2 separate regions of the Homo sapiens genome follow, and region 2 is linked to region 1. Evidence: fine-mapped expression QTL. A gene starts in region 1. The other region holds a variant in brackets. All regions are shown on one strand. Distances are from middle to middle.

Region 1 (5,378 bases):
CGGCTAATTTTTTTGTATTTTTAGTAGAGACAGAATTTCGCCATGTTGGCCAGGCTGGTCTCGAACTCTTACCTCAGTTGATCTGCCTGCCTCAGTCTCCCAAAGTGCTGGGATTACAGGTGTGAGCCACCGTGCCAGGCCATGAAATAATCTTAAAAGTGGCATTTATTTCATTTTGCCTTATATTCATGTATAAACCTTGGTTTCCGTATTTGGGCTGTTAGTAAAATAAGACAAAAATAAAACAAGGAAAAATCAATGTCATGAAGAACTAAAACTAAGCCTAAAGCATGATGTTTATCTGTATATTACTCAATAGGCACTGCTACTGGGCTACGAATGTGAATGTGCCATGGTCCTCGTCCTCAGTAAGTTCCCTGTGTAATAGTGGCGGCAGGTAAACCACAGATCAACTAAAACTAAGCCTAAAGCATGATGTTTATCTATACATTACTCAATAGGCACTGTTATTGGGCTACGAATGTGAATGTGAATGTGAATGCTGACATGGTCCTTGTCTTCAGTAAGTTCCCTGTGTAATAGTGGCGGCAGGTAAACTACAGATCAACTAAAACTAAGCCTAAAGCATGATGTTTATCTACACTCAATAGGCACTTGTTACTGGGCTACGAATGTGAATGTGACATGGTCCTCGTCCTCAGTAAGTTCCCTGTGTAATAGTGGCGGCAGGTAAACTACAGATCAACTAAAACTAAGCCTAAAGCATGATGTTTATCTACACTCAATAGGCACTTGTTACTGGGCCACGAATGTGAATGTGACATGGTCCTCGTCCTCAGTAAGTTCCCTGTGTAATAGTGGCGGCAGGTAAACTACAGGCAACTAAACTACAGGTCACTTTTCTCACAAAAGTGAGAATACAGTTCCTAGACTACAAGGGGGAATGTTTAAGTTGGATAGATAATTTAGAGCTAGCCCTTTAAGGGATAAAGATAATTTAAAGGATGGATGGAGAATTCTAGGCCGAGGGACTAACAGATATTGAGTCCCTACATTAATTACTATAAAAATAAATCAAAGAAGATTCTTACATGAACCTATGCAGGTAAATTCAGATTTTTTTCCCCCTGGTGGATTTGCTCTGAGTTGAGGTAATGAGAGCTAACATTGATTCAGTGCCTGCTATGTTTTGCACTGTTAGGTACTTTACATGTTATCTCATGTAATACCTCTTTAAACCTCATTTTACAACTAAAATTAAATGACAGCTAGGAGCTAGGAAATGGCAAAGTTACGATTCCAAGTCTGGACTGGTTGTCCACAAAAGCCCCTGCTCTTGCCATAATGATGCCACTTCTTTCAAAGAATTCAGAATTTTCTTCACAGCTTTAAAAATGCATAGATTCTGAAGCCTCTCACTTCCTTCCAATTAGTTGCCTACCTAGAAAGTTATTTCCTCCACTTGAGCTCATCACCCCTTCTTAGCGCTCCTTTGGATTACTGTAATTTCTTTTTCTTTGACCTCACCTTTCGTCTGATGGATTAGTGTAATCTTTCCCAAATTTGTTAATCTGAAGAATTCAGGAGCTTCTCAAAATGCAGGTTCCCAAGCCATGCTCCAGGACATCGATTCAGAATTGGATCAAGGCCTAGAATCTGTGTTTTTAACAAGCATTTGACTCAAGGGTATCAAATTGGAGGAAGCACTGAGTTGGTGGACTACCTTAATTGATCTACCCATTTTCAGTCTCTTCTGCCAACCCATTCGCTCCACCCCACCCCCAGTCCGTTTTTCCGTTTTGCCCTCAAGGTCCCTGAAGACTTCCATATCATTTCGCATTGTTTTATTTGGGGCACTGTGCCGCACTACCTGGGCCCACAGCAGGCGCGCAATATTTACTGACAAATACAACCCACGAGGTAGTTCCTATTATTACCCTTCAATTTGAAATTGAGAATAAAACAGAAGTCGACAAGTTGAGGTAGCTTGTGACATCAGTATTTCGTATTTAATCCAGAAAGCACTGCTTCAACGCCCAGTGCGTGCAAGGTTCCACTCTCGGGCCAGCGGTCCTCTCCCAAAGCCCGTTCTTCCTAAGTGTGCGGCCGCCATCCAGGACACGCCACGCTCGTAAAAGGTCACCTGAAGCATCTACCCTCCACGCTCAAGAGGTAGGCGGAGGAGCGCGCCCTTTTCTCCAAAATGGCTGAGCAGGGTCACGTGGGCTCGGGGGCGGGGCCGGTGCGCTCGCCGGAGCCTGGAAGTGGGTCACGTGGCTCAGACGGGGGCGGTAGCTGTGGGGGCGTGGCCGTCACACGGCGCGATCCGTCTGGGCAGCGGCTCTTCGGGGGCCACGCCCTCCGGGCCCTGGGGGCCTAGCGCGCGACGGTGGGGTGGAGCTAGCCTCGTGACCTTTTACCCCAACATGGCTGCGCCCGTGGGACCGGTGAAGTTCTGGCGACCCGGTAAGGCCCTTGGTGGAACGCTGGGCAGATGCGGCGGCCTGACTTCGGTCTTGGCGCCGCGGCCGGCGCCCTGGGGCCAGCAGACCTGCTCGCAGGCCTGACCTCGGCGAGCTGGGCGCTGCCGCCTCTGTGCGGGGGGAGCTCTGGCTCAGGCTCCCCAGTGGTCCCGAGGGATTTGGGGGTGCTCCCCTAGCGTGAGCAGAAACTCTTTGTGACCTTGTTAAAGTGGTCCAGCCTCCTCAGGCCTCGTCTTCCTCGTTACTGATGCTTGTCCTGCCCACCCCGCGAGATGGGGAATCCTAAAGCTCCCTCTCGTGTCTCGTTAGCGCCCTGGGGTTGCGCTGTGGCCCGACAGACAATGCTGCTCGCTGCTGGAGGCTTGCAAGCCCAAGTTATGGAGTCAGACTGTCCGGGTTCGAATTTTCGTCTCTGCCTTGTAGTAGGGTGACCTTGGGCGAGTCACTTAATGCCTCTGAGCCATGACTTCTTTACCTGTAAAGTGGGCAGAACAATAGCTTCTATGCTGTGGGCTTAAATGACAAGCAGAACGCGTTGTCAGACTTAGAATAAATGCTCAAAAAAAGGGAAAGTGTGTTATTTTCTTTTAGGATAATTGTTGTCCACTCCGAATGTCTACTAGAAAAGGGAACAGTCCTTCATATTGGCTGCCAGCCACTTCCTCTCTTACAGACTAACACGAATCACAATCACAAAATGCTTTACTTGTTTTGTCTTGATATTTACTCATTAATCAGGTTTTTACTGAATGTGCATATGCCAGACCGTACTAGATGCATTACTTCCTCTCTGCAAACAGTTTCTTGTAAAAAACAAAAGTTTTTAAATTACAGCTACCAGCTTGATTTTTTTCTACCACCTGCACCCCTGCAGGTCTGGATGTGCAAAGTATATTGCAGCAAAAATGAAATGACACCAAGAATGTAATATAAGCAAAGCTTTTAATTTTTCAGTGGTTCTCTGAAATTCTGACCATGCATATAAGTGATGTGAGAGATAAACCCAAGCAAGAGATATGTTTAATGCTTTTTAAAAATTTGTAGTCTGTCACTTGACAGTTTTATGGTTCAGCATTTCAAGTCATCAGCCAATTATCCATCCTGAGTTTTATTTGCATCCAAAACTAGGAACTTACTAAGTAATGAATACTTTTAATTTATTCACGCTTTTAGTAACAGGTGAAAGTGTTAGGTATAATAAAGAGCTGAATTAATTGTTTGAAATCAGACCAGGGTACTATTTTGGTTAAAGAACGTGGAATTACTCTTAAGAGTTCTATTTCATTATTTAGTTCATCCATTGAGGGTACACTTATTGAAAACCTAATCCTGTGTTCAGGAGACAAATACAGATGCTCAGGGCTCTGCTCTCAAGTTACTGTCTCTCTCTTAATTGAATATAAAGTTAGATGTCCTCTAGAAGAGATTTTACAATGAGACAGAGTAAGGTGGTGGTAAAGAAGATGAGCTCTAGAGTCAGACTGCAGTGCCCATCATGTCTACCACTTACTAAGTTGATGACTTGATAGTCACTTAAATTCTCAAAGTCTCAGTTACTCCATCTGTAAATTGGGTATAATACCTACCCTACCCAAAGTAGTGTTGTGAGGTTTAAATGAGAATAACACACAACAGGATCTTGGCACTAGATAGGTTACTATTATAATTATATGGAAGTATGGAAGAGGGAGGGAAAGTTGAATGTATGGATAAGAAATACTTCATTAAGGTGGTATTTTTGGAGTGAACATTAAAGGATGAATAAGGTTTTGTTTCATAGAGAAATGGAACTCGAAGCAAAGGGTGCAGCATGAACAAAGGCAGAATGGGATTTGTGCCTTTAGAATGTCCAGAAAGCCAAAATAACAGAGCAGTGTGATAGTGTTAAGTGCTAGGGTATATTTTGGGGTATGACAGGAGATGAAGCTAGAAAAGTAGGTAAGGGCCTCATTGTGAAAGGTCTTCATGACAAGTTAAAAAGTTTAGACTTCACTGTTTTTTTGTTTTCTTTCTTTTTTTTTTTTGAGATGGAGTCTGGCTCAGCCGCCCAGGCTGGAGTGCAGTGGCGCAATCTCGGCTCACTGGAACTTCCACCTCCCAGGTTCAAGCGATTCTCCTGCCTCAGCCTCCTGAGTAGCTGGGACTACAGGTGTGTGCCACCACACCTAGCTAATTTTTGTATTTTTAGTAGAGATGGAGTTTCAGCATGGTGGCCAGGATGATCTCAATCTTTTGATCCCGTGATCTGCCCACCTCGGCCTCCCAAAGTGTTGGGATTACAGGCGTGAGCCACTGGGCCTGGCCTGACTTCAGTGTTTTTAAGCAGGAACAAATCAGGTTTACTTTAGAAAGATAACACTGGCAGTGGAGTAGAGAGTGGATGGAGGAGGAAATTAGAGAAGGTACTAGTGAAATCCAGGAGGGATGTTAAAAACCTTAATTCTGACCTGGGAGCTTAGAGGAGGTGCCTGTTGGAGAGACATTTTAGAGGAAGATGTGGGAGAAGATGAAGTCAGTAATAACTCAGATTTCTGGGCTGGGTGACTGTCTAGGTTAGTGATTCTCTAATTTTGCTTTATAGTTGAATCACTTGGGAAGCTCTGAAAAGTCCTGATGTGCACTTGCACCTCACACCAATAAATTAGAACTTTGGAGGCCTAGGAGCCAGGCATCAGTGTTTTTTAAAGTCTCTAAGGAATTCCAGCATGCATCAAAATTTGGGAACCACTGGTCTAGGTAAATTGTGTTGTCATTAGTTGACATGGGAATAGCTTTAGTACACAGTTATTGGGCCGTTGCTTTGTGTTAGTCACTTTCATTTACACATCTTATTAAACAGTCACAGTATCTCTGTGATGACAGTAATACTCTTATTTTAGTGAGGAAATTCAAGATATGAAGTAGGTTGTGGGAAATGCAAGGTGAAAGTCAGGG
Region 2 (5,378 bases), 48 kb after region 1:
ATTCTTTCTGGCTACCAGTCCCTGGAAATCACCAACCTGTGTTCTTCTCAATGGATTTCTCTCTTTTGGATATTTCATATAAAAAGTCATACAATATGTGACCTTTTGTGTCTGGCTTCTTTTAGCATAATGGTTTTGAGGCTTATCTACATTGTAGCATGTACTTCATTCCTTTTTATTACTGACTAATATTCTGTTGTATAGATAAACCACACTTTGTTTATTCATTTATTAGTTGTGGACATTTGGGCTGTTTTTGCCTTTTGGCTATTGTGAATAGTGCTGGTATGAACCTGCATGTACATGTACTTGAGTAGGTGTTTTTAATTCGTTTTGGCTATTACAGGGTTATATGTAATTTTGTTTAACTTTTAAGGAGCTCAAGTTACTTTTAAAGAGGCCAGCATTATCTCATGTGCCAAGAAATCATGGACTAAAGATAGGCAGGTGGATTTGGGTGAAAAGTCACTGAATCCCTTTGCATGAGCAGTTTAGTGGAAGTGGGGTTGGGGAGGGCCCCTGACTGTAATGAGTGCATTGGTGTCCAGCCTCTAGGCCTCCACAGGAGCCTCCAGAAAGTATTGCTTTGAACAGGGTACCACCTGCTCAGACCCTCCACATTTTCTCAAACCATCCAGGATTTTTCCTCAGCTTATCTTCTCCTACTAACCACTACAAATTGCTTCTCAGCTGAACTACTACACGACATGCTCTCTGCATGAGAAACGCTTAGATACCTTTTCCTTGAGCTGTTTCCTCTTTGCCCAACAGATCCTCCTTGTCCTTCAAATCCTCCCTCAAATGGCAACATGCAGCTTCCCTGGAGGCCTTCTTCCAGCCACCCTGCTTCCTCCTTCCCTGAGCCTCCATTTCTCTTTGGGAGGACCACTCCTTGGGACTTTTCCTATTTCTCCTTGAGGGTCAACTGTTTCTGGTCCAGGTCCCAGGCCCCTGCATATCACTGAAGCTTTTCAAGGGGATTGGCTGTGACTCCTACAGCTTCTGGCCCCATGCTTCACACACTTGAGTCCTCAGGAGAGCTTGCCTGTCATTGAACTTTTAGGAAACACCCACTTCCTGTGAGCTTTTCAGCAGGGTGGTCCTCTTATGTGTTAACTTTGTTTCTCCTTTGGTTAGTAGTGTGCTTGGAAAATGGGGTTATCCTATCAAGAAGCTGTACCCCAAATTCTCTTGAAACTAAAGGAAGTAGCTCATTTGGAACTTCCTGCTGTTGGCCGTCATCCAGAACCTTCTAGTTAGACCCAATTTGTATCAATTAGTCCACAGAATATTGGTTGTCTGTTTTCTCAAAGAAAACCTTTCTGAAGTTTTTCGGGGATAGTGGTATTTCTTCATGGCACTTTTTTTTTTTTCCTCTAGTTAACTAAAGCTTTATGATCTAAATGGAAGTTGGGTCACCCTTGTATTGTTTAAGAAGGGTGTACATCAGTTACAATGTTGACTGATGTGGGAGGTTTTGGTGGGTGGAGCATTCTCTATATAATCCTTAAGCTTTCTGAATATACATGAAAATGAGTTAATCTCTTCCTCTTTTTTCCCCACCCTTCCTGCCTAGCTTTTATAAAAAGGCCTTCTTCCAAAGTCTCTTCTCCTTCCCCCTCCCTTTCTGCCCTTCCTGTCTTGGGATCTCTGTGTCTTAGGATGCTTTTTCCTGTGTAAGGTCACCTCTTCTTCCTGGTAGGGCATGTAAACATTCATTTCTTGGTTTGGGGCAGCATTGGATTCTGGGAATGATATTGTGTACCTGGCTTGTTGATTTAAAAATTTGATTTGGACAATTTTTGCTCTTTATAAGATTTGGTCATTTGTTGTATTTTGGTGATTTATCTTGAAATTGTTCTTTGCTTGTATGTGAAGCTCTTGCTTCCTTGACTTATTCCAAACAGAGATGGTGGCAACTGGGAACTGATAGTGATTCAGCAAGTACTTGTTGGTTTGATTTAATGTTTTGCTGACAAAAAACATTAAAAAACAGAATTTTAGATAAAGTTTTATAAAGGTGTATTCAAATATATTTATCTAAGGCATTTTAAAAATAGAATGGTCTTTCCTAAGTATAAAAATAACTTTATATCATGGTATCATGTGCATCTGCTTCTAGAATCCTAGAGACCCTTGTTCAAGATAGAGAAGAAAATTTGTCCCTTGGCATAGTGATTGCATTTGATTGTGACATTTGGTCCCAAACAGTTCTGATTTCCTATCCTCAGAGGAAGCCTTTGACAAGTTGCCTCAGTCTACGGTTCCTGAGATGCAGCGTAGTAATTTGGCACCTGTCATCCTGCAGCTGAAAGCACTAGGAATTGACAATGTCCTCAGGTTCCACTTCATGTCGGTAAGTCCTGCCTGCTGTCTGGGGCCATAGGGAGGCTAGGGAGCTCACAGGGGGATGTCAGGACATTGTCGTAGGGCATGCCATCTTTCCTTTTTTTCCCTACTCAGGTCATGTGTTGTGTGTCTGCTTTGCAACCAGGCCCTGTGCAGGACGTAGGGGAA[A/G]ACAGCCAGACAAGGTAGCCTCAATTCCTATTCTTACATAGTTCCTGTTCTTGTCTGCTGGGGAATAGAGACAAGTAAGTGGGTAATTACAGAGCAGTGTGCCCAGGGCTCTGAGAGACAAAGGAAGGGCCTCCCAGGTGAAACCTGAAACCCAAATAGAATCTCACCAGGTTAGGAGTGGAGAGTTCCAGGACAGCTAGTCTTTGTAGAGGCCTAGATGCAGGAGTACCATGATTGGGGGATCCTTCCTGCAGCTTTAGATAGAGCTGCAGGAAGACCCTTGTGCCTGATTGCTTCCTGAGATGATTTCTAGGAGTAGAATGACTGGGTCAAAGGGCCGTTGTCCTGTTTAGGGTCCTGTTACATGGCCAGATTGCTTTACCAATGTCAACTCTAGCAGTGCCTGAATGCCCACCTTGTGGTACTTCCATTGTGCCATGTTATCTTCTTTGGGTTTGCTGATTTGATTGGCCAGAGAGAGGAAATCACCTTTATTATAATTATTTTTAAATTTTTCATAAGATAGATTTTTATAAAAACATTTATTAGTCAGTTTTTATTTCTTCTGAGTTGTTAAGCTATTTATCTGTTAGAATTTGTGTCAGTTAGTGATTTTCAAGAGTCCTTTGAATATTAAAGACATTAATTTTTATAATATTTCTTACAAATATTTTCTATTTATATTTTACTGTTTTTTTTTTAATGTGTGGACATTCTAAACATATTCACAGTAATCTATTTTTGCCTTTATGATTTCTTTGGCTATTCTTTTTTTCTTTCTTTATTTTCTGAGACAGTCTCACTCTGTAGCCCAGGCTGGAGTGCAGTGGTGCCATCTTGGCTCACTGCAACCTCTGCCTCCCAGGCTCAAGTGATTCTTGTGCTTCAGCCTCTTGAGTGGCTGGGATTACAGGTGTGTGCCACCACGCCTGGCTAATTTTTTATATTTTTAGTAGAGACAAGGTTTTGCCTTGTTGACCAGGCTGGTCTCAAACTCCTGAGCAGGTCAGGTGATCCACCCCGTCTGGGCCTCCCGAAGTGCTAGGATTATAGGCGTGAGCCACCACCCCCGGCCTCTTTGGTTATTCTTGCCCTTATGAAGTACTTCTTATATTTGGGTCAGTTAATACATATTCTCTCATATTTTCTTCTAGAATTTTTATGATTTGAGAACTTTGTTTTTTCCCAACTGTATATGATATGACAAGTCTGGAAAGTCTGGATTCTTGGATAGTAAAGTCCCTAATGTCATATGTGATGGTAAACTAGGTGAATGAAAGAATAGAACATACAAATATCAACTCCCCCAAAGAAAATTGTGTACTTACCATAAGTATAGGGAAAATGGACCCTTTGATTATTGGTGTAGAGTAGAAGATATTATAAAGAAAAGATAAACAGGCTGAGCGTGGTGGCTTATGCCTGTAATCCCAGCACTTTGGGAGGCCGAGGCAGGTGGATCACTTGAGGTCCGGACTTCAAGACCAGCCTGGCCAACATGGTGAAACCCCGTCTCTACTAAAAATACAAAAATTAGCCAGGCATGGTGGCATGCGCCTGTAGTCCCAGCTACTTGGGAGGCTTGAGGCAGGAGAAACGCTTGAACCCGGGAGGTGGAGGTTGCAGTGAGCTGAGATTGTGCCACTGCACTCCAGCCTGGGCAATAGGGTGAGACTCTTTCTTAAAAAAAAAGAAAAGATAAACAGTATGTGCTGATTTGAAAGCTTATGAAAAGCCCCGCATGTAAAATTAAAGAAAAACATACAGTGACAGAAATGACAGATCAGTATCTCAAAAAATATGAAGAGTTTTTATATGCACATCATTTACAGTAAATATTCACTAAATAAAGCTAAAGGAAAAAAACAGCACAAATTCAAATTTCAACTATCATTAGGACATGTTGAGCTTCTCTAGGAGAGAGGTGACTGCACGTTGATATAGCTATAAAGGATGACTTTACACTAATTTTTTTTTTTTTTGAGACAGAGTCTCTCTCTGTCACCCAGGCTGGAGTGCAGTTGTGCGATCTCAGCTCATTGCAACCTCTGCCTCTTGGGTTCAAGTGATTCTCGTATCTCAGCCTCCCAAGTAGCTGGGACTACAGGAAAGAGCCACCATGCTCGGTTAATTTTTTGTATTTTTAGTAGAGACGGGGTTTTGCCATGTTGGCCAGGATGGTCTTGAACGCCTGACCTCAGGTGATCTGCCCACCTTGGCCTCCCAAAGTGCTGGGATTACAGGTGTGAGCCACTGTGCGCAGTTGACTTTACACTAATTAAATGATTGAGTATAAACAAAAATGGTGAAATCGAAAACTGCCACAATTTGGGAAAGTAAATTCCTCCCATGTTATACCGTTTCTGTCCCCATGGAGGACTTTCTGACAACATTTAATGAGCCGTAGAAATGTCTGCTATTTCTTCTCATAAAAATTTCTCCTGAAAAAATAATTCAGAAGAAGAAAAAAAGCTTACATATGTGATAATGCTTATAGCATTTATATTACATTTAAAAATATAAATAATGAAAATTATCGTAAAACTTTTGGACAGTTGAAAAATGAAAAAAAAAATACAAATTTATCTTCACATATTTCCTTCTGGTTATTATCCCCTGAAATTGTGGTTTTTATGATTGAAATTACAGAGTACATATAATTTTGTATATTTAGCAATGTTATTTACAATGGTGAAAAACTGGAACAATTTAATTGCCCAGCAATAAGAAAATTGACTTTTTTATGGAGTATGATTGTCATAGAGTATTATGCAGCCATCCCAAGTAGTTACTGTGAAGTTTGTATGGGTGCAAGAAACAATGAAAACAGAAAAACATGTAGTGAGAAGACCACACTAAAA

The links.
Region 2: its variant is fine-mapped to the expression of DHX35 in whole blood (TOPMed, PIP above 0.99).

Annotation. Positions count from the first base shown.
Region 1 is chr20:38,959,981-38,965,358 of GRCh38, forward strand. It overlaps DHX35 (DEAH-box helicase 35), which reads left to right and starts at 2,364. Exons shown (of 22, transcript NM_021931.4): 1 at 2,364-2,427. The coding sequence starts at 2,388. RefSeq lists a silencer at 2,229-2,348 and an enhancer at 2,389-2,698.
Region 2 is chr20:39,008,049-39,013,426 of GRCh38, forward strand. DHX35 (DEAH-box helicase 35) reads left to right here. Exons shown (of 22, transcript NM_021931.4): 13 at 2,232-2,356. Among named protein-coding and RNA genes, the nearest start is that of DHX35, 48 kb to the left of the region's middle. The variant A/G (reference allele first, on the strand shown) is at 2,518.